3 linked regions of the Homo sapiens genome follow. The protein of the gene in region 2 interacts with the protein of the main gene of each other region in a pairwise test. Each region holds a gene or a part of one and is shown on either strand. Other genes may lie near its edges.

Region 1 (6,870 bases), on a different chromosome or scaffold from region 2:
ATCCGCCAACCCGCAGCCCAGGACAGCTTTGAATGCAGCCCAATACAAATTTGTAAACTTTCTTAAAACATGAGTTTTTTTTTTTAAGCTCATCAGCCATCATTAGTGTATATTATGTGTGGCCCATGACAATTCTTCTTCTTCCAATGTGGCCCAGGGCAGCCAAAAGATTGGACACCCCTGCTCTAAAACCATGCAGTAACCCTTGAAGGCAGGGACTGTCCTTATGTGGTATCCCCAAAGCCTAGTATAACACCCAGCTGAGTAAAACACTTTCTAAGTGTCAGAACCTAACTCCAGGACACTAGGACACACACACTGTCTGGTAACATTGAGAAAGCTGCTTCAGTCTACCAGAAACATTCCAAGTCTTATCACTGGGCTGCTGGCATTAACACCAAAAAATAATATTAATAAAGCACTTAAGAGAAGACAGAATGGTTAGATCCTAAACTAAATGATACTATCCTAATTATCCTGCTTTCCATCACAAAGAAAAAAGGTTTGCCCAAGAAAATGGTCCCCACAATTGCCCAAGTAGCTTGGGGTTATGTTAATAAACTTTCTGGGCTGTGACAAGTTCCAAATGACTAAAAAACAGGTACATACCTGGTGAGTTTGCTACTGAGTCAAAATGACAATTAGCCAAGACAGCATGCTGGGCTCCATCTCTGGGTTCCAGCTTTACCACAACATTGGTGATGTTGTCATAATAGCTTGTAAAACCTCCCAAGAAATCAATGCTAAAAGAGCCTGTGGGCCGTTGTACATCTACTGAAATCTTATGAAGGCTGTTGCTTTGCACTTCAATCAGTTTAATCTGTTCCAAAAGGTAGTGCACGGTCAGAATTTCATTTTCTGGACTTCCTGTAGTCCTGGGGCCAATGGAGGTTATGTGTTCAAGATAATCCCTGGAAGTAACCAAAAGAATAACAAAGGTTTGTAGTTAAAATTGACACTTAGCGTGGGTAACTTTTCCACTACACACCCCTTCCTCCCCAAAAAAGCTTAGTTCTTTGCCTTATATAAAAGGGACCGCCTTTCATTATTTCAGACACCAAGTGAACATCACTTATAAAGTTCCATATTTTTATTGTTGCCTCCCACGAGTTGACCCCTTCAGTTTTCTCCACCATCCCACTCCCAACTTCTCCCCATATCAAACCAATACAAGGACTAGGGATGTATTCAAAACGTGTGACCACTGGCCAGGCACGGTGGCTCACGCCTGTAATCCCAGGACTTTCGGAGGCTGAGGTGGGTGGATTGCTTGAGCTCAGGAGTTTGAGACCAGCCTGGGCAACATGGTGAAACCCCATCTCTTCTAAAACTACAAAAACTAGCCAGATGTAGACTACTATCCGCCTGTAGTCCCAGCTACTCAAGAGGCTGAGGTGGGAGGACTGCTTGAACCTGGGAGGTGGAGGCTACAGACCCGAGATGGAGCCACTGCACTCCAGCCTGGGCGACAGAGCCAGGCCCTGTCTCAGAAAACAAACAAAAAAAGCTAAAGACTAAGCAGGATAGAATATAACTTCACTGTGCATACTCCTGAACGTTACAGATTCTGGGTTAATGACTTTAAGTAGCAGAAACCAATGAGCAAAAATAATCAAGTCAAGAGGTTAAATAAGGCGGGCGGGGGAAACTTTTGATGGACCTAGCCCTCCTAGCATACACCCAAGGTCTAATAACTTCAATTCAGGCCAAAACCAACTGTACCCCTAATGAAAACAAAACTGTTTTTGTCTTTTCACTGCATTCCAAGTGGGGAAAGCTGGAAGTGGGGGTGGGAGACGTTTCAGAAAGTCCTTAATAAGCTTGCAACACTTTGCATTCTAGCAAAAACTTTTTAGAACACAGTAGCTGTTGAAAACTTGACGCCAGCTTAACACTTCATGAGCTTTGACACACCTGGGTTACAATATCTTTGACTTAATCACCTTTCCTAGCATTCTTAAAGGTCTTAAAAAAAAAAAAAAAAGTCAAACCTTACACAGTCACTAATCCAAGGGGCCTAAAGATAAACTGCAGGGATCTGAGAATTTATCAGACTGCATACCAAATTTTGACTGGGCGGTGTTCCAGAAAGAGTTTCTATAGCCTTCAGATGTGGGGGCTGTAACCCTCAGAAAGTTAGAACAGTGCACTAGCGCCTTCCAAAACTCCCCGCCCCCAAAGCGAATTTATACAACAGTCTAGGTACACAAATTTCCATCTGGAAAGCAGAAGGGCTAAGCAAGGTAAAAAGGGGAAGCTGTTCCAGAATATGGGGAGACGACTCACAACCAACCATCTGCACGAAGGGCAGACAGTGGAAAGCAGGTTCAATCTACCTGGCAACCCCAATCTGCACCACGAGCTTAACCGGGGACAGGCAAGCCCCAAGTCCCGGCAATTCAGACCCCAGAAGAAGGACAAGCAAGGTCACCCCACCCCACGTGCAGCCTGGGAGGGGTCAGCGAGTCCCAGCGGTCCGGCAGGGGCGGGTGCACACAGGTGCGGTGCCCCGGAGCCTGCGCAGGAGCCGCAAACGGACGCGCGGGCCGTGCCAGGAGGGAGCGGCCGGTACCTGGCTTGGAGCGCGTCGAACTCCCCGCGGTGTCCAGCGGCCCCGCGTAGCACGAGCTGCTGCAGCGAGAGCTGCACCAGCGTCCGCAGCGCGATCAGGTAGAGCGCGAGCCCCAGCGCGGCGCGCACCTCAGACAGCCCGGTCCCCGCGCCCCTGCTCGCGCCGCCGCTACCCCCGGGGCTCCTCTTCCGCGTCCTCCCGCCGCCGCTGCACCCATCCACCAGAGGCTCCTGCGCTCGGGCCTCCCTCTCCGGCGGTGGCGCGGCCGCCGCTCCCTCTCGACGCTCTACTCCGACGCGGTGCCGCCTCACAGCAGCCGACTCAGAACCCCACTCCATGGCCACGAGCCTCAGCTGCCAGCCCAACCGCCCCAACCCGCGACAGCCCCGGCCGCCGCCGACGCCGCCGTCGCTGCCGCAGCGCCTCCTAGTGAGCGGACGGAAACTGCAGAGGGCCAAACTTCTTCTGATTGGCCCGTCCCGCCGCGCCAAGACCCAGCTTCTTTGGCAGTTCTCGGGTGCACACAGCTGCAGGGCCGACCCAGCAGCGGGTGGTGGATATGCCGTCTCCCGCAGGGCTTTTCCAGCCCTCTGTAGGACGGAGATTGCCAAATGTAAAGACACCTAAAAACCCAAAACGAGAAAAATGAGAGATCGCTTTTGAAAGAACACACAAGGCTCTTACAGTGCATCAGGCAGATGAAAAAAGCAATGACCTGGCTTTCGTAAGGAAGGAATATTAGAACATCAGGCTCCAAAAAAGTGGGTTCCTGGCTCTTAAAATTAGAAATAAGATTACGCAGAGGAGGCCCGGCCTATTGCTTTCACATGCATAATCTAATCAGATCTTCATAACTCAGCAACTTAATCTGTGCTATTACTGTCTCCATTTAACAGATAAAGAAAAATAATGGCTATTATTTATTGAATACCTGCTATGAGCTAAGCGCTAGGTCAAGTCCTTTAATACATCATCTTATTTAATTATCTTTAACAATACTTAAAAGGAAATATCTTTGTTCCCATTTTATAACCTGAGAAACGTAGAGATAACAGATGAAGAATGTAAATCTAATTTCATGGGCTCCCAAAACAGCATTCTGTTCCACTACTACATTAGCACTCTGCAAGTGAAGGTTCAGAAAGGCCATTCTTCACTTGACGACTCTCTGGGGCGGTTAAGCAGCAGAGCCTTGGTTTCAGTGCAGATCCTAGTGATTATCTAGTCTTCTTCCAGCTTGCCGGTACCCATGAGCCTCTCTGCTCCAAGGTTTTTTGTCCCTAGCTTGGAGTTGCTACATTAGCATGAGCATTAACCTAGAGACCAACTGGGAGAGCACACTGCCGGATTTTGACTTAGCACATATGTCAGATTTCATACAATGCCCTATAGTCCTGCTCTTGCCCACCTCTCAGGCTCCTCTGACACCAGGATGCTTCTTATTTCCAGCTCTCCAGCCACACTGGCCTCTTTCAAAGACTTCCTGCACGCATCTTTCCTTCTACAATAGGATCTTCTCACATGCTGTTTGAATTACCTGGAGTGTTCTTCTCTCTCCTCATTGTCTTTTTAACTCCTAGTTATCCTTTAAATCTCAGATTAAGTGGTACTTCCTCAAGCAAGAATCTCCTAATTTAATTAAGCTTGCTTCCCCTATTTGTAGGATCTCACAGCACCATGTTTGCATGTGACTATTTCATAACTTCCTCATTAGACTGTAAGCCCCACGAAGGCAGGAATCAGGTCTGGTTTTACTCACCATTTTATTCCTTGCTCTTAACACAAAGCATGACACATAGTATGTAGTCAATAGATATTTCTTGAGTGAATGAAAAAATGAAAACATACCACTTTTGTGGCAGCAAGCATAATTTTAGCTCTACAAGATCCCTTTCAGTCTGTAAGCACTATGAGACTAAAGACAGTGTCTATCTTATTTAATCATCACTGTATCCATAGTGCTTAGCTCTGGATAAGAGCCTAGCCCATGGTCATAACTATATGTATGTATATATGTGTGTGTGTGTGTGTGTGTGTGTGTGTGTGTGTGTGTGTGTATGTCTGACAATATCCCATGGTACCATAATAGGGAAATGCCTGGCTGCCTGGCTGTTGGGGACGGGTAGATCTGAGTTCCTGGATCTGGTACCTTTAGTACACATGGCATTATTCAAGTTACAATCTCACAGAGTCCACGTGTATTTATCTGTGGTAATGCAGATGATACCTGCCTTAAGGGGCTTCAGTGAGGATTAGATAGATAGACAGATGATAGATGGATAGATAGATGTGTGTGTGTGTGTGTGTGTGTGTGTGTGTGTGTGTGTGTGTGTGTGAAAGATCCTCACATAAGATTCTCATTAAAAACTATTTTTCAGAATTTTCCTTCTCATGAAATCCTTTGTAGATTAGATTAAAAGCTACTTTCCTATCATGATAATCATAGAACTCTAGGTGGTAGGAGTTAAGTTACAGCTGAGTTCCTGAAAGGCAGTTTTTCTCTATACTTGTATAGTCTACGGTATTCACGTTTGAATATTTTTAGCTACTAGTTGTTGGATATCTACTTGTGTCAGATACTGATTAAGGTGGAGAAACAGAGAAGAACAAATCAATGTTTCTACCTTCAGAGAGCTTACATTCTAACAAAGAGACAATGAACGCGCGCGCGCATGTGTGTGTGTGTATAAAATGTCAGAGAGTTAAGTGCCATAAAGAAAAATAAAGCAGGGAAATTGAGACTGACAAAAGCTGCTGTTTTATTAGGGTGATCAGAGATGGTCTCACAGTCTCTCTGAGAAGATGACATTTGAGGTGACCTGAATGAAGTGAGGAACAGGGCCACATAAGCCTGGGGAGAGAATGTTCCAGCAGAGGAAAGTGAGCTGGGATGTTCAGAGGCAACGTCGAATAAGGCATGCACTAAAGCAGACTGAGCCAGGAGCCCTGGTAGATGTGAGGTGACAGAGGTGGGTAGGAGCCAGTGCAAGGAAGGCCTCCTGGCCCTGGTGAGGACTCTGGGGTGGTTTTGAGCAGTGAAAGGTCATGCTTTAGGTGATGTTATATAAGATCACTCAGTCTCCATCCCAGGCAGAGCAGCACAGTGACCACATCTAGAACATATAGGCTTATAAAACACTTTGATAATGTCTGGTCTTTGAAGTGTTCAAAGCCAGTTTGATCTATAATTTTATTTGTGTTAAAAGTAGACCACAGTGAATTGGAACACATGCTCTAGTTCTCACATATCAAATCCCTGATAAGGATGAGGAACAGATAAATGTGAAAGGTTGTGGCTGCCCCGTCTGGTGAGCTATTGATCATGGGGTTGAGTCAACTCATCTGACTTGGCAGGCAGTTATGCTTGTGTCTCCCTTTATGACAAAGTAAGAGCTAAACTGACTGACAGACATAGAGATGTCCCATGTCCCTTCTGTCTTGCCATCTTTTCAGTATTTCCTAGTAGTTTGGCCAAGGTAAGTGGAAGGACATATGAGCTGTCAGGATTCAGGTGAACTGCCAGTTTCTGTCTTCCCCACAGGTCATTCCATAGCCAATTTGCCGTAGAAGAAAACCATAGCCTGTGTACTTTCTTCCTTGGAAGAGAGGCTACCAGTGTATCTGGTGAAGTTCTCTGAGGCTCAGGCTAGCAGAAGGATGCCTTTTACATGATGTTACAGTGACATTCAAATCAGGTGAGGTACCAAGCCAAGAGATGAGAAGTGAGCCCAAACCAGTTGCAGAAAAAAGAAGCAGTTGTCAAAAGCTGACAGGCAGAGCAAGTCAAAACCAAGTGCAAGGATTCCAAACGTGGAAGAGTTTATGGGTAAATGTAGCTAGGTGCTGTTGCGGATAGCTTGGTTTTCTGTGCTCACTGAGGTGGTATGAGAGTGAACCAGCTTTGTTTAAAGGTTCAGGGTACACCATCAGTTTTTTTAGGTTTTTGTTTGTTTGTTTGTTTAGATCCCTTAAGGCTAAAGCTTGGGCGTCAGGGTGCTGTTGGACAATTGATCTTTCCAACTCTGAAGCTCTGAAATGGAACATTCAGGAACTGGTGACAATGGTCAGCTCCACGGATCACCTCCAACAAGCCAGGAAACCTGGGGGCTGACAGTGCTGGCAAGAAAGGGCATTCTAAAAGGCACATGAGCCAGATCTGTAAATCTTCAGAGCTTTTCTACCCCCATGAGCTTAACGGGCCTTGGAGCCTAGGGAGAGGGTAATTGCACTCTACTTTTAACCCCCCCTCAAATTCTGGGCTGGTCCCCTGTGTTTTCTACGTCCCTGTATCTAGGTAG
Region 2 (7,960 bases):
AAGAACTATGGGACTATGTAAAAAGACCGAACCTACCACTGACTGGAGTACCTGAAAGAGACAGGGAGGATGGAACCAAGTTGGAAAACACACTTCAGGATATAATCCAGGAGAACTTCCCCAACCTAGCAAGACAGGCCAATATTCAAATTCAGGAAATCCAGAGAACCCCAATAAGATACTTCATGAGTAGATCAACCCCAAGACACATACTCCAAGGTCGAAATGGAAGAAAAAATATTAAGGGCAGCCAGGGAGAAAGGTCAGGTCACTGACAAAGGGAAGTCCATCAGATTATGAATTTTGAGTGCTACAATATGCCAATGTAGGTTATTAATTGTAATAAATGTACTGCTGGTGAAGAATGTTGATGTTAGAGACTGCTATGGTTTGAATGTGTCTCCAAAGTTCATGTGTTAGATACTTAATCCCCAATGCAATAGTGTTGAGAGGCAGGTCCTTTAAGAGGTAATCAGGTCATAATGTCCTTATAATGGGAGTGGGTTTACTATCACGAAAGTGGATTTGTTATAAAAGCAAGTTTGGTGCCTCTTGCTCTCTCTCTTTCTTATGCATGTGCTCTCTTGCCCTTCCAAATTTTGCCATGGGATGATGGAGCAAGATGTGTTTCTCAGTCTTGAACTTTCCAGCCTCCAGAACTATGAGCCAATAGATTTTGTTCATTATAAATTACCCAGTCTTGGGTATTCTGTAATAGCAGCACAAAACAGACTAAGACAGAGTCTATATATGTGTGGCAACAAGGAGAAAATGAAAAAAAAAACTACCTTTCTCACAATTTTGCTGTGATCCCAAAATGGCTCTAAAAATATGGTCTTTAAACAAAACAAAAAAGAGCAAAAGGAAAAAGGATATACTAGCAGCAGATCTTACAAGAATATCCAAATTTAAAGAGCCATCAAACCAGTGGTGAATTTAAATTTCCCTCCTCTAGTATCACTGCCCCGAACTTAATACAGCCAGAAACATGGAATTGAGCCTCTGTCAGCATAAAGAGAGGGCTCCAGGAGAAGCACTAGAGGTATGGTCTGAGGAACAGAAAAGCAAACTCCTATCTCAAATAGAGTGTGAAAATACCACGTTTATTTTTTCTCCCCCTCTTGTCTACATTCTCATGTGCCTCAAACCTCAGGCAATCTGATGATGGTAGGGGAAACTACAGCAACATGCAATAGCCAAAACCTTGAGAAAGGTTAATCCTCGGCCGGGCGCGGTGGCTCACGCCTGTAATCCCAGCAGTTTGGGAGGCCGAGGCGGGCGGATCACAAAGTCAGGAGATCGAGACCATCCTGGCTAACACGGTGAAACCCCGTCTCTACTAAAAATACAAAAAAGTAGCCGGGCGTGGTGGCGGGCGCCTGTAGTCCCAGCTACTCAGGAGGCTGAGGCAGAATGGCGTGAACCCAGGAGGCGGGGCTTGCAGTGAGCCGAGATCGCGCCACTGCACTCCAGCCTGGGGGACAGAGTGAGACTCCACCTCAAAAAAAGAAAAGAAATCTAAAGTCAATCCTTTCCATTCAGTTGAGCTGTAGCTCCATGAGAGTGGGGCCAAACCTCTTGCTTTTTTTTTCTTCTTTCTCACTGTCCGTCTGCCACATGAGCTTAAAGATGCAGCTATAATTGCAGAAGTATATGGTTCATCAGAATAAAAGGAGGCCCGCATTTCTAGCTGGAGGATGGAAAGGAGAAGCCCCTGGGAACCTGAAAGTACGGGTCAGATGGTGAAGAGGAAGAAACTTTAGAAAGAGACCCATGAACATTATTCATAAACTCCTGGATTCACCTGCCCCTCAACTTATGCATGCCTAGATATGGTTCTAATTGGCACACTAAAGATGCTAAGACCTGAACTAATGAGTAGAGCATTGCACAGTTCCCAATTTCACCCCTGGTTGATGCACATGTCTGAATAGCACTACAAAGGCTTTCAGAATGGAACTGACATTGGAACCAGATCCCACAGATTGTCTTCATCTCACCAGGGTGATTGCTTGCTAAAACAATAGTATCAATATACTCCAAAATTTAAATAAGATCCAGTCTAACTAAATATTTGTTCAAAATGTTCAAATTACAATCCAAAATTACACAGTATATGAAGAACCACGAAAATGTCAACTTCCATGGGGAAAGAAAACACAAGCCAAGGAGGACATGACAGAGATGTTGGAACTATCCGACAAACAGTTTAAAGCATTTGGTATAAAATGCTCAAAATACCCAATGAATGAAGAAATAAATGAAGTCATTTAACAACATTTAGAGTTCATCTTTTTCTGCCTCTGAATTACCTTTTCTCCAAATTGATTACCTTTTAAGTTGGGAGGAGAAAACTCCAAACTTTTAAGTCCTAAGTTATAAAACCTTGATATTCCCTAACTGTGGCAAAAGTCATTTTTTTCACTTACTAAAGCATCATATAAAGCTATATATATATATATTTCCAGTGCATCCAATGTAACATAATTCCATTAGAATGCCCTACTAAGTTTCTACTCAACCTTTGTTACTTTTTTGATTTGTAAATGTCCTTTACATACTATTTTCTACCTTTTCTCTCTTAAGAGCTTCCATGATAGGTTTTCTACCTATGTAATAATGATGGTATCTTGTATCTGAGTAACACTTTAGAGTTTGTATAGATTTTTTTTTAGTGAAATTAACTGTTATTTTCAATCCTAAACTTAACCTTATCTCATTGTCTTACATCTTTCTCTCATTGTTCCCTCTCCTTAGTTGTTAGAACTGGGAATATAAATATATGCATGTTTTACACAAATTATAAGCCAATTTATGGACTCCCACATTCCATCTCTTATCCTTGAAAACTTTTTACTAGATCAGCACCTTTCCTGTGTGAGCCCATCACTACCACTACCTTCCCATTCCAGTCCTCACACTTACTCTGTAGAGCCCAGCTTCTTACCTGGGTTTGCAGGCAATTCAGATGGTGTAATGTCTTTCTCCACATTGTTACTGTCATGCATTTTGCCTCCAGTTTCTATGAGTGATCTAAACCACAGTCTCTACGTTTTCAACCCCAAGAATGATTCAAAACAAAACAAAAAAAAAGCCCAACGACTAAAACGTGTAAGTGTGTAACCGCCCCAGTAACTCAAAATGTCAAGCCTTTAAGTTAAATATAGCTAGAGGAACAAATGAAGCATAAATTGTTTCAAAAATCAGCTCATCACAACAGAATAAACTGGTGTTTGTAAGAATTTTAAAAAGTTGAAGCTACTTCTCTAACAGTATTTTGGTTACGAAAGAAACTAATGTTTGATAACTTAAAATTTCTTTGACTATTAAAAATTATAATTGTATTTTGTGCGGTACAAAGCAATATTATGATAGAAAATAAGAATTTATTGAAAGGAAGGAGTTGGCTCTCAGAGGAAATGAATGTTAGGTAAGTAAAGACAACAGCAATTTTAATCTCAAATTAAAATTCATTCCCAAGAGTTTACGCTCATTCAAAAAATATCTTGTTTTCAATTTCTTCAAGATATTTTGGGAATTTGCTGCTATGGCTGCTACAACAACTTTTCAAAAATGGGCTTGAACGGTGTGCAGCTTCTGTGCTCCCTCTGGCATGATCCAGGAGCACAGAGGCTCTTTAGCAGCAAGAGCTTCTTGTCAGATGTGTTGATTTCTTGTATATAAATGCCAGTAAGGGCACCTTTTACTAAAATATAATTTATAGTAATGTGCACAAATCATAAGCATACAACTAAACACATTCATTAAAAATATAACATGTAACAAGTGCCTAGATGAAGTATATCTTAAAACCACGTAAAACAATACCAACACGCTATGTGCCCTACTCATGTCCTGCAACGCTCATTACCCCAAATACAATCTCTATCTTAACTCTGACAACATATTTTCCCTGCTTTTGAATTCTATACAGTAGCCCCCCTTACCTGTAAGAAATAAGTTCCAGATTGGACAGCTATTGCCTTTATCAAATAGAAATGAAGTTGCATTAGGACTGAGTTCCAGTTTCTGTAAGATTTTATATATCTTTTTCTTTACTATTTCATCATTTCTAGTTTGTCCTAGGACCTATGATAAAGCCTTCTAGTAATTCCATCTGAGAACCTGCTTTTTATCAAAGCTGCTTCTCTTTCTTGGAAGTTGAATTTGGTTTTGTCTCCTGAACAACATGTGATTGCCAAAAGTTCAAGTCTGTTTTTCACATAGTTCTTCCTAACCTCCTTTCCTGTGAAATTTAATAATTTGAAAATTGCTTGAGAGAAAAATTTTTCTCATTTCTTTGGCCCTCTCTCCTCTCTGGGGGTTTTGGTCCTTCAAGTGCTTTAGGAAGAGATTTTTCTCTCCCCCAAAAAAATGCCTGGTATCCACAGCCCTCTCCCCAGAATCTCAGCATCTGACCCACTGCCAAGATGCCCCTAAGAGAAGGGTGGCTCCTGGAATGCTGACTCACTTCTCTGTGGCCCCTTTCCAGAATCTTCGTTCTGCCTCCAGTTGCCTTGAACACTCTCTAATATCTTAATGAAATCCTTTTTCTTCAATTCTAACTCTTCTAGTTGTTCTCAGCATGAGTTTGATGTCTCTCCAGTTATATTATCATACACAGAAGTGGATATGAACTGTCAGGCTTATCCCTTTTATATCCTTTTATAATTTCATTGTTAGCTTAAAGGGGACAAAAGGTAAACCCTGATAAATTGAGATTTCCACACTTATCTTGGAATTTCCACACTAATCATCTTGGAATTTCCACACTAATCTTGGACCTTCCAGTGAAACTACTATTACTTTTACTGTTACTAGCCTGGCATGACAACATGCCAGGTTATTACTGCTTACTATGCTCCATACACATTAATATGAGATTTAAATATGTGTTCTTATTTAATTGGCATAACTAACTAATGAGGCTGATATTACCTTTATTTTTCAGATGATTTTGGGTGAGGGACTAACTAATATGTCTAAGTTCACAGTAAGCTATAGAACCCATGACTGACAGATCTGATATGAAAACTACTTTAAAGGTCAAATATCAAATGACATGGTATTTGTGAGTTAGTCACATCATTTATTCATATCAATCTCTTGGTTTCTACGTTGCTGTAAGTTTCTCCTTATGTGGAAACTAAACTGAAAGTAAGTTCATGAAGTCCTAAAGATGTACATAATCATTTACCCTTTAACAAATATTTTCAAACTTAACATCTTTCAGCCAGCACGCCAGGTGGACTTTGAGGGTAATGTCCCTTTCTTTAAGGAAGTTAATATGAAACTGAAAAATAAGTAGGTATACATGACTTATTGTAACAAGATGTGAATGGCAGTAGAATAATTTATTAGGAGAGCAGTTAATGAGGGCACTTAACCCAGAAGAAGTTTTCCCAAGAAAGTACCAATCAAATGAGCTGGAGTTAGTTAAATAAAGTGAGGCATTTAGGCCAGGCATGGTGGCTTATACCTGCAATCCCAGCACTTTGGGAGGCCAAGGCGGGTGGATCACCTGAGGTCAGGAGTTCAAGATCAGCCTGACCAACATGGTGAAATCCTATCTCTACTAAAAATACAAAAATTAGCTGGGCATGGTGGCTTGCACCTGTAGTCCTAGCTACTTGGGAGGCTGAGGCAGGAGAATTGCTTGAATCCTAGAGGCAGAGGTTGCAGTGAGCCAAGGTTGCACCACGTGGGCGACAGAATGAGACTCTGTCTCAAAATAAATAAATACATACATCCTGGCTAACACAGTGAAACCCTGTCTCTACTAAAAATACAAAAAATTAGCCGGGCACGGTGGCAGGCGCCTGTGGTCCCAGCTATTCGGGAGGCTGAGGCAGGAGAATGGCATGAACCCAGGAGGCAGAGCTTGCAGTGAGCCGAGATAGTGCCATTGCAGTCCAGCCTGGGCGAAACAGCGAGACTCCGTCTCAAAACAATAAATAAATAAATAAATTAATTAATTAAAAAAAATAAAGTGAGGCATTTGAGGTGGAGGAAGAAGTCTTCCAGTTGAAGAAAGTCTTCTAGTTTCTTTAGTTAGGCCCAGAGAGAAGAGAATATATCTCAGAGTTGGGAAAACACCTGAAATCTGAGAGAGCTGGAGCATAAATTATGAAAGGAGAAATGTGACAAAATAACTCTCCAATTATCACAAGAGCTTTATATTAAACTATGTGAATCTCATGACTTCTAAGCCATATCGTCGTGCTTACTTTCTTATGCAACCTTGTGTTAAATAGCTGATACCACACATAAGATACCACACATAAGATACAGTGATGTGCATTTACACTGTCCTTAGAGAATTCCAGTGTGAGGAAAAGAAGTACACATACAGAGTAATTTTAATTTCATTTAGAAAATAAATTTTTTTCAAAATATAATTTTTTAGTTGAGTCTATATTAGAAGGCAGAAATTAATGACTAATTGACCGGATATAAAAGGAAAGAAAAAAGCCCCTTCAAAGTGCCCATTACTCTTCAATAGATGTGAGTGTCTCAACTAAGTAGTATAAAAGCAATATATTATCAGATTTTGCTTCATTGGAATAGCTGACTGATAAAAAGTTACAAGAAAGAACAAAAGTTTATAAAAATTATTTATTCTCAATGACCTGTATCCCACTTTTCTTGGGTTTTTGTGTTTGTGACAGCATGATGGATGGTAATGATATTGAATAAGTGAGGGATATAAAAGGCAGTGTATTATGATGTAAAAGAACACAGCTGGCAGGGTGTGGTGGCTCACACCTATAATCCCAGCACTTTGGGAGGCCGAGGCAGGTGGATCACCTCAGGTCCGGAGTTGGAGACCAGCCTGGCCAACATGGCAAAACCTTGTCTCTACTAAAAATACAAAAACTAGCTGGGCGTGGTGGTGCGCACCTGTAATCCCAACTACTTGGGAGGCTGAGGCTGGAGAATCACTTGAACCCAGGAGGCGGAGGTTGCAGTGAGCCGAGATTGTGCCACTGCACTCCTGCCTGGGCAACAGTGAGAGTCCATCTCAAAAAATAAAAATAAAAAAAATAAAAAAAGAACACAGCCTTTGGGGCAAAACAAGCTCAATTCATATATGACTTTTGTAGCCTGATAGTTAATTTTAAATGTATGTGGAAAGCAGAATAATGACCCCCTAAAGACATTAATAAGCTAATTCCCAAAACCTTGAGGTAAGGATGTTATTTTACATGACAAAAGACATTTTGCACATATGGTTAAGGGTCTAAAGACAGAGGGATTATTTTGGATAATCCAGGTGGGCCTAATCTAATCACATGGGTCTTTATTAGGGGAAGGCAGGAATGTCACTGTCAGAGAGAGATTTGAAGGTGCTGTGCTGCTGGCTTTAAAGCTGTAGCAAGGGACCATAAGCTAAGGAATGCAGGTGGCCTCTGGAAGCTGAAAAAGGCAAGGAAACGGCTTCTTCCCTAGAGCCTCCAAAAGAAATGCAGCCCTATCAGTGGCACCCTGACTTTAGCCATTTTGAACCTCTCATTTCTAGACAGTAAAATAATAATTTGTGTTGTTTTTAATCCACTTGTCTTAGTTCATGTGCCTGTAACAAAATACCATAAAATGGGTAACTTATAAACAACAGAAATTTATTTCTCACAGTTCAGGAGGCTGGAAGTCCAAGATCAGAGTGCTGGCAGATTTGGTGCCTGGTAAGGGCCCACTTTCTGGTTCATTGATGGTAACTTCTAGATGTGTCCTCACATAGTAGAAGGAACAAGGCAGCTTTGGTGGGCCCCTTTTGTAAGGGCACTAATCCCATTCATCGGTATTCTACCCTCATGACTTAATGACCTCACAAAGGTTTCATCTCCTAATGCCATCACCTTGGGAGTCAGGATTTCAACATGTGAATTTGGGAGTGGGAGATACAAATATTGAGATCATAGCACCCCTAGTTTATGGTAATTTATTATTACACAATAATTAT
Region 3 (4,674 bases), on a different chromosome or scaffold from region 2:
CAAATCCTGTTAGGTAGGGCTCTTCTGGCTGTGTGGGACAGGATTCAAACTCAACGTTTTTTCAGCCAAAAGGGGAATTGATTGGGAAGATGTGGGCGTGTCACAGAACAGCCTGGTATTGGGAAAGGCAGGAGTGAGTGGGGCTTCCTCTCCCCACCTCTTTTCTTTCTTTCTTTTTTGAGATGGAGTCTTGCTCTGTTGCCCAGGCTGGAGTGCAGTGGCACAATCTTGGCTCACTGCAGCTTTCGCCTCCTGAGTTCAAGCAATTCTCCTGCCTCAGCCTCCCGAGTAGCTGGGATTACAGGTGCCCACCACCACAGCCGGCTAATTTTTGTATTTTTTAAAAATAGAGACAGGGTTTCACCATGTTGGCCAGGCTGGTCTCGAACTCCTGACCTTGTGACCCACCCACCTCAGCCTCCCAAAGTGTTGGGATTACAGGCATGAGCCGCCACGCCCGGCTACCCACCTCTTTTCTTTTCTTTTTTTTTTTTTTTTTTGTGATGGAGTCTTGCTCTGTCATCCAGGATGGTGTGCAGTGGCACGATCTTGGCTGACTGCAACCTCCACCTCCCGAGTTCAAGCGATTCTCCTGCCTCAGCCTCCCGAGTAGCTGGGATTACAGGTGCCCACCACCACAGCCAGCTAATTTTTGTATTTTTAATAGACACGGGGTTTTACCATATTGGCCAGGCTAGTCTCGAACTCCTGACTTCAGGTATCTACCCACCTCGGCCTCCCAAAGTGCTGGGATTACAAGCGTGAGCCACCGTGCCTGACCTCCACCTCTTCCCTTGTGGGTTCTTTTCTCCCTCTGCAGACCTCACAGAGTCACCTGGGCTTGAGGCCTCATAGAGGAGCCCTCAGTGCTGACCACACACTACAGTCCCCTGAGGAGCTACATGACTTCTGATGCCAGGTCCACCCAGACCAATGAAATAAGAGTGTCTGGGGTTGGAGCCTAGGCATTGTGCCCCCAGGTGATTCGAATGTGCATGCAGGGTTGGGAACCATTGCACTATAGCTTCAGGCACCCAGAGGAGAAACTCCTGCAGTTCTCATTCATTAGAGGGGCAGGACTCTGGGGAACCTATTTAGGGTCAGGTGGCCACATCCTCTGACCAGAGGCTGGACAAGTCCCTGTTGTGCCCCGGTGGATGTGCAGCACCGGCCAGGCCAGGCGCCGAGGGGTCAGTCCCCCAGCAGCTCCCTGCCATTTGTGTCATTCCTCCCCTCCCTGCCCTTGACTGCAGTGTACATGGCAGTCATCTCATCTGACTTGGTTTCCGTCACTTTCCCTCTCAGAGTCAAGCTCGAAGGAGAAGCTGAGCTGCGTTCTTGAGATCTGGGGACGTGGTGGGAGATGTGGTCACAAGGCAGGTGGTGGAGGAGGCCAGAATGGAGCTGGCCAAGGAAGGTGCGTGGCAGGGAAGGGGAGGTTCTGTGATGGATGCTTTCCCCAGAAGCCTGATACGCAGTGGCCAGGGAGACTGAGTCCCGGGAGAGGGTTTGGGGTGGGAGAGGTCTGAGCATGAGGGGCAGGGCACACTCTGGTTCAGGGAGATGTAGGACAAAGGACTCTGGCCTTGGGACTGATCTGGGCTGGTTTCCTTACATTCCTCTCAGGCCCTTCCCCCTGTATGCTAAGGGGGGATGGTACCTGGACTTCAAGACCAAAAGCCCTTCTCTGACCGCACTGCTGAGTGCAGCAGGCAGCTCCACCCACAGTCTCTGGGCAGCCCCAGGCTGTCCCCTCCCCACTCTGATTCTAGGACAAAGACCTTGGACCTCAGCTGGATGCTGGGGATCAGGAGAGGAGGAATGGTAGGTGTGGAAACAAGGGGCAGGATTCGGGGTGAGCAGAGCTGGGGGCTGCAGACCTTGCTCAGGACAGTCCTAATGCCTGCAAGCTCCTAACGCCCTCCCCACATTCCCTTTTCTACATGGGGAGCTCCTACACTGTGTCCCCTCACCTATCGCTGATCCCCAGCATCCAGCTGGAGGGCCTTCCAGGAACTGTCCCTTCCCTTAGGAGGTCTCTGGAGCACAGTAACAGGGGCAGGGTTTACTACCTTGGGGCCTCTTTCCACACCAGGGGCTCCCTGACCCTGGGGACTGCTCCTAGAGCTGGGCCAAGCCTCAGGGGCAGCCTCCAGGAGTGAGTGGGATCTCCTATCAAGGAGGACTTTGTGCCAAGGCCAAGGCCAGGCTTGGGAGGGGGGTCCCTAGACAGAGGGTAGGACCTCTGAATTATTTCTTGCTTAGCCCTGGATGTGCTATGTAACCCACCCTGGACCTCTGTCTCCTCATCTTTCTGCCCAAGAGCCCCAGGGGTCAGCACTGACCACTCTGACACAGGCCCCGTCCAAGCCACGCTGAGGACAGACCGAATGATACCATGATTGGGGCTGGATGTTCACTTCTCTTTCCAAAAAAATATGAAACACACAGTCTAGGTATGGCAGGGGACAGAGCCTGGCTGGGGACTGGACATTACACACCCAGGGGGCCCTTGGCGGAGGCGGGCAATTTAACAACTGGTCTGAAAGTCAAAAGAGAGAGAGCTGGTTAGTGGAGTGAGCTGTGGGGTCGGGGGCAGGGGCTGTGCATTCAGGCCCGGACATGGGTACTGGCCAGCGTGGCCAGACCTTGGCCCTCACAGCAGCCCTGCCTGGGGCCCATTCCCGGGGGCAGGGGCGCCATGGTCCGACCTCACCATCTGTGTAGGTGGCCCCCAGCCCTGGGCGCACTGGAAGAACCTGAGACCTAAACTCAGACCCTCCCTGTCCTTGTGTGAACGTTCAGCATCCCGGCACTGCCCTTGTGGGGTTGCTGTGAGGAGCCCATGGGACTGGGGAGGGTGAAGGTTTCTGCTCACCCCAAGGACCTGGGTACTAAGGTACGTCTTGGCCACTGCTCTATCTCTAGGGCCCAGCACGTAGCAGACACCCAAGCAGCTCTTCAGTGAGTAAACAGCCGGGCTGGTGCCTGAGGGCCTGTCTCCAGGGATGCATGCTGGTGCCCACCAGGCTGTGCAGACAAGACCGTGCCTGGACCTGCATCTGTGTGTATGCCTGGGGGCTGGGTCCTGCCTCTGGTGTCTCTCTGAGGATCTGGGTCTCAGATTGCAGGGTGGGTGCTTGTGTTGAGGACAAGCTGCTCAGAGCACCTATGCCCATCCTATGCCCCAGTGGCCCTGCCCAGGGTGCTGCGAGGCTGGCTGGATGCTGGGCAAGGGGGCCACTGGGTGGGGGGCTGGCCAGGGCAGGCGGAGCTCAGACGTACTCTCGGGCAGCAGCAGAGGGTCCAGGCCGATAGGGCTGTGGGCTGCTGTTGGGTCTCTCTGGCTCCGGGCATGTGCAGCAGAGGAAGGAGCCGCCCAGCACGGCCAGGCCAGCTGAGGCCCAGCCCACGAACAGGGCTGGGCCAAATTCATACCTGCAAGGGGTAGGGAGAGTGGCATCAGGTGTGGCTGCCGTCTCAGGTTGTTCCCAGTCCCTGCCCTGGCAGAGGAAGGGCAGAGTGTGTGGAGCTGGAGGCTGGAGCCTCACAACCTCTTCCATATCTCCAGATAAATTGAGGTGAATGCTCTTCCTTTCTCCCTCCCCCCCAGCCCAGAATATCAACACCACACAGGGTGACCCGGCCTGGGGTAGGCGTGAAGGCTAGAGGCTGGGCCTCCAGCTCCTGCTCTGAGCAACCTTGGGCTCATTTCCTGATCTGGCCAGTGGAGGGGGCATGGGAGGGCCTGAGAGGTCTGCACGGGAGGAGTGGGGCAATCCCTGCCATGTTTTTTCCCAGTCACATTCTGGCCCACAGAACTCCCAGCCAAGACTGCTCCCGCTGCCCTCTGGAGAAGGCCAGACCCTTCCACCTGGCACTCTGGGCTCTCCACACCCAGACCCTGCTGGCCAGGCCAGCCCTGCTCCTGGTTCTCACTGCCTTGGTGCCTTTGCACAAGGCACCCCCAGCTGGGGCACCAAGCCCCCCAGCCCACCACTCCTGTGCCTCCCCTGTTCCTTCTCTGCCTTCAGAGCCCAGTTCAGATGCCACCTCTTCGTGGGGTCTTTCCTTGACATCCTCTGTGTTCACCCCGCCCCTTGCGCCGACTCCACTACCATGCTTTCTCCAGGAGGCCTCAGCCCCTTGCTTGTCCGGCTCCCTGGGAAGCCCCTTGAGGGCAGACAGAGCCATCAGTGTCCCCAGGACCCAGCACAGGGCCTGGCAGCCCAAGTGGCATTGGGGACTGTTGAAGGGATCGGGGGCCGAGTCCTATCCTGACATGCCTGAGCTGGACCTTGCTTGGCAGACTTTGTGGCTGCAGCCACCACCCAGGGAACAAACCTTGTACCTGAGATCTCCTCCCTCCCCTTGCCTCTCAACACCTCTGCCTCCTCCAGGCATCCCTCCCGATTGCAAAAGCCCAGACATCTTTTCTCATCCTCTCTCCACCCCAAGGCCCAAAGCCCATTGGGATGTCTAGGGTTAAGACTGTCCCATTCTCTGCTCCTGGCTAGGCTGAGAAGTGAGGGAGGAGCCAAGGTGGGCCCAGGCCCTTTGCAGAGCATCCCCTTCAGTTCCCATGCCCACAGTCTTACAAGTCCTGGTTATCTCCTGAATATCAGCCTGCTTTCCACTGCTCCCTCCCTGTTGCCCCAAACTCTCTGCTCAGAC

What was found.
Region 1: the proteins of CLEC2D (region 2) and ERMP1 interact in binary tests that used the Homo sapiens proteins (3 or more experiments, as listed by UniProt).
Region 3: the proteins of CLEC2D (region 2) and CLDN19 interact in binary tests that used the Homo sapiens proteins (3 or more experiments, as listed by UniProt).

Annotation. Positions count from the first base shown.
Region 1 is NC_000009.12:5,830,118-5,836,987, forward strand, and holds the start of ERMP1 (endoplasmic reticulum metallopeptidase 1), read right to left. Parts: upstream 3,001-6,870; 5' UTR 2,911-3,000; coding exon 2,573-2,910; intron 912-2,572; coding exon 610-911; intron 1-609. UniProt on the Homo sapiens protein: Within the ovary, required for the organization of somatic cells and oocytes into discrete follicular structures.
Region 2 is NC_000012.12:9,664,783-9,672,742, reverse strand, and holds the start of CLEC2D (C-type lectin domain family 2 member D), read right to left. Parts: upstream 3,031-7,960; 5' UTR 3,009-3,030; coding exon 2,948-3,008; intron 1-2,947. UniProt on the Homo sapiens protein: Receptor for KLRB1 that protects target cells against natural killer cell-mediated lysis. Inhibits osteoclast formation. Inhibits bone resorption. Modulates the release of interferon-gamma. Binds high molecular weight sulfated glycosaminoglycans.
Region 3 is NC_000001.11:42,732,593-42,737,266, forward strand, and holds the end of CLDN19 (claudin-19), read right to left. Parts: intron 3,439-4,674; coding exon 3,286-3,438; coding exon of another isoform or gene 3,170-3,285; exon of another isoform or gene 2,543-3,169; coding exon 2,494-2,542; 3' UTR 501-2,493; downstream 1-500. UniProt on the Homo sapiens protein: Forms paracellular channels: coassembles with CLDN16 into tight junction strands with cation-selective channels through the strands, conveying epithelial permeability in a process known as paracellular tight junction permeability.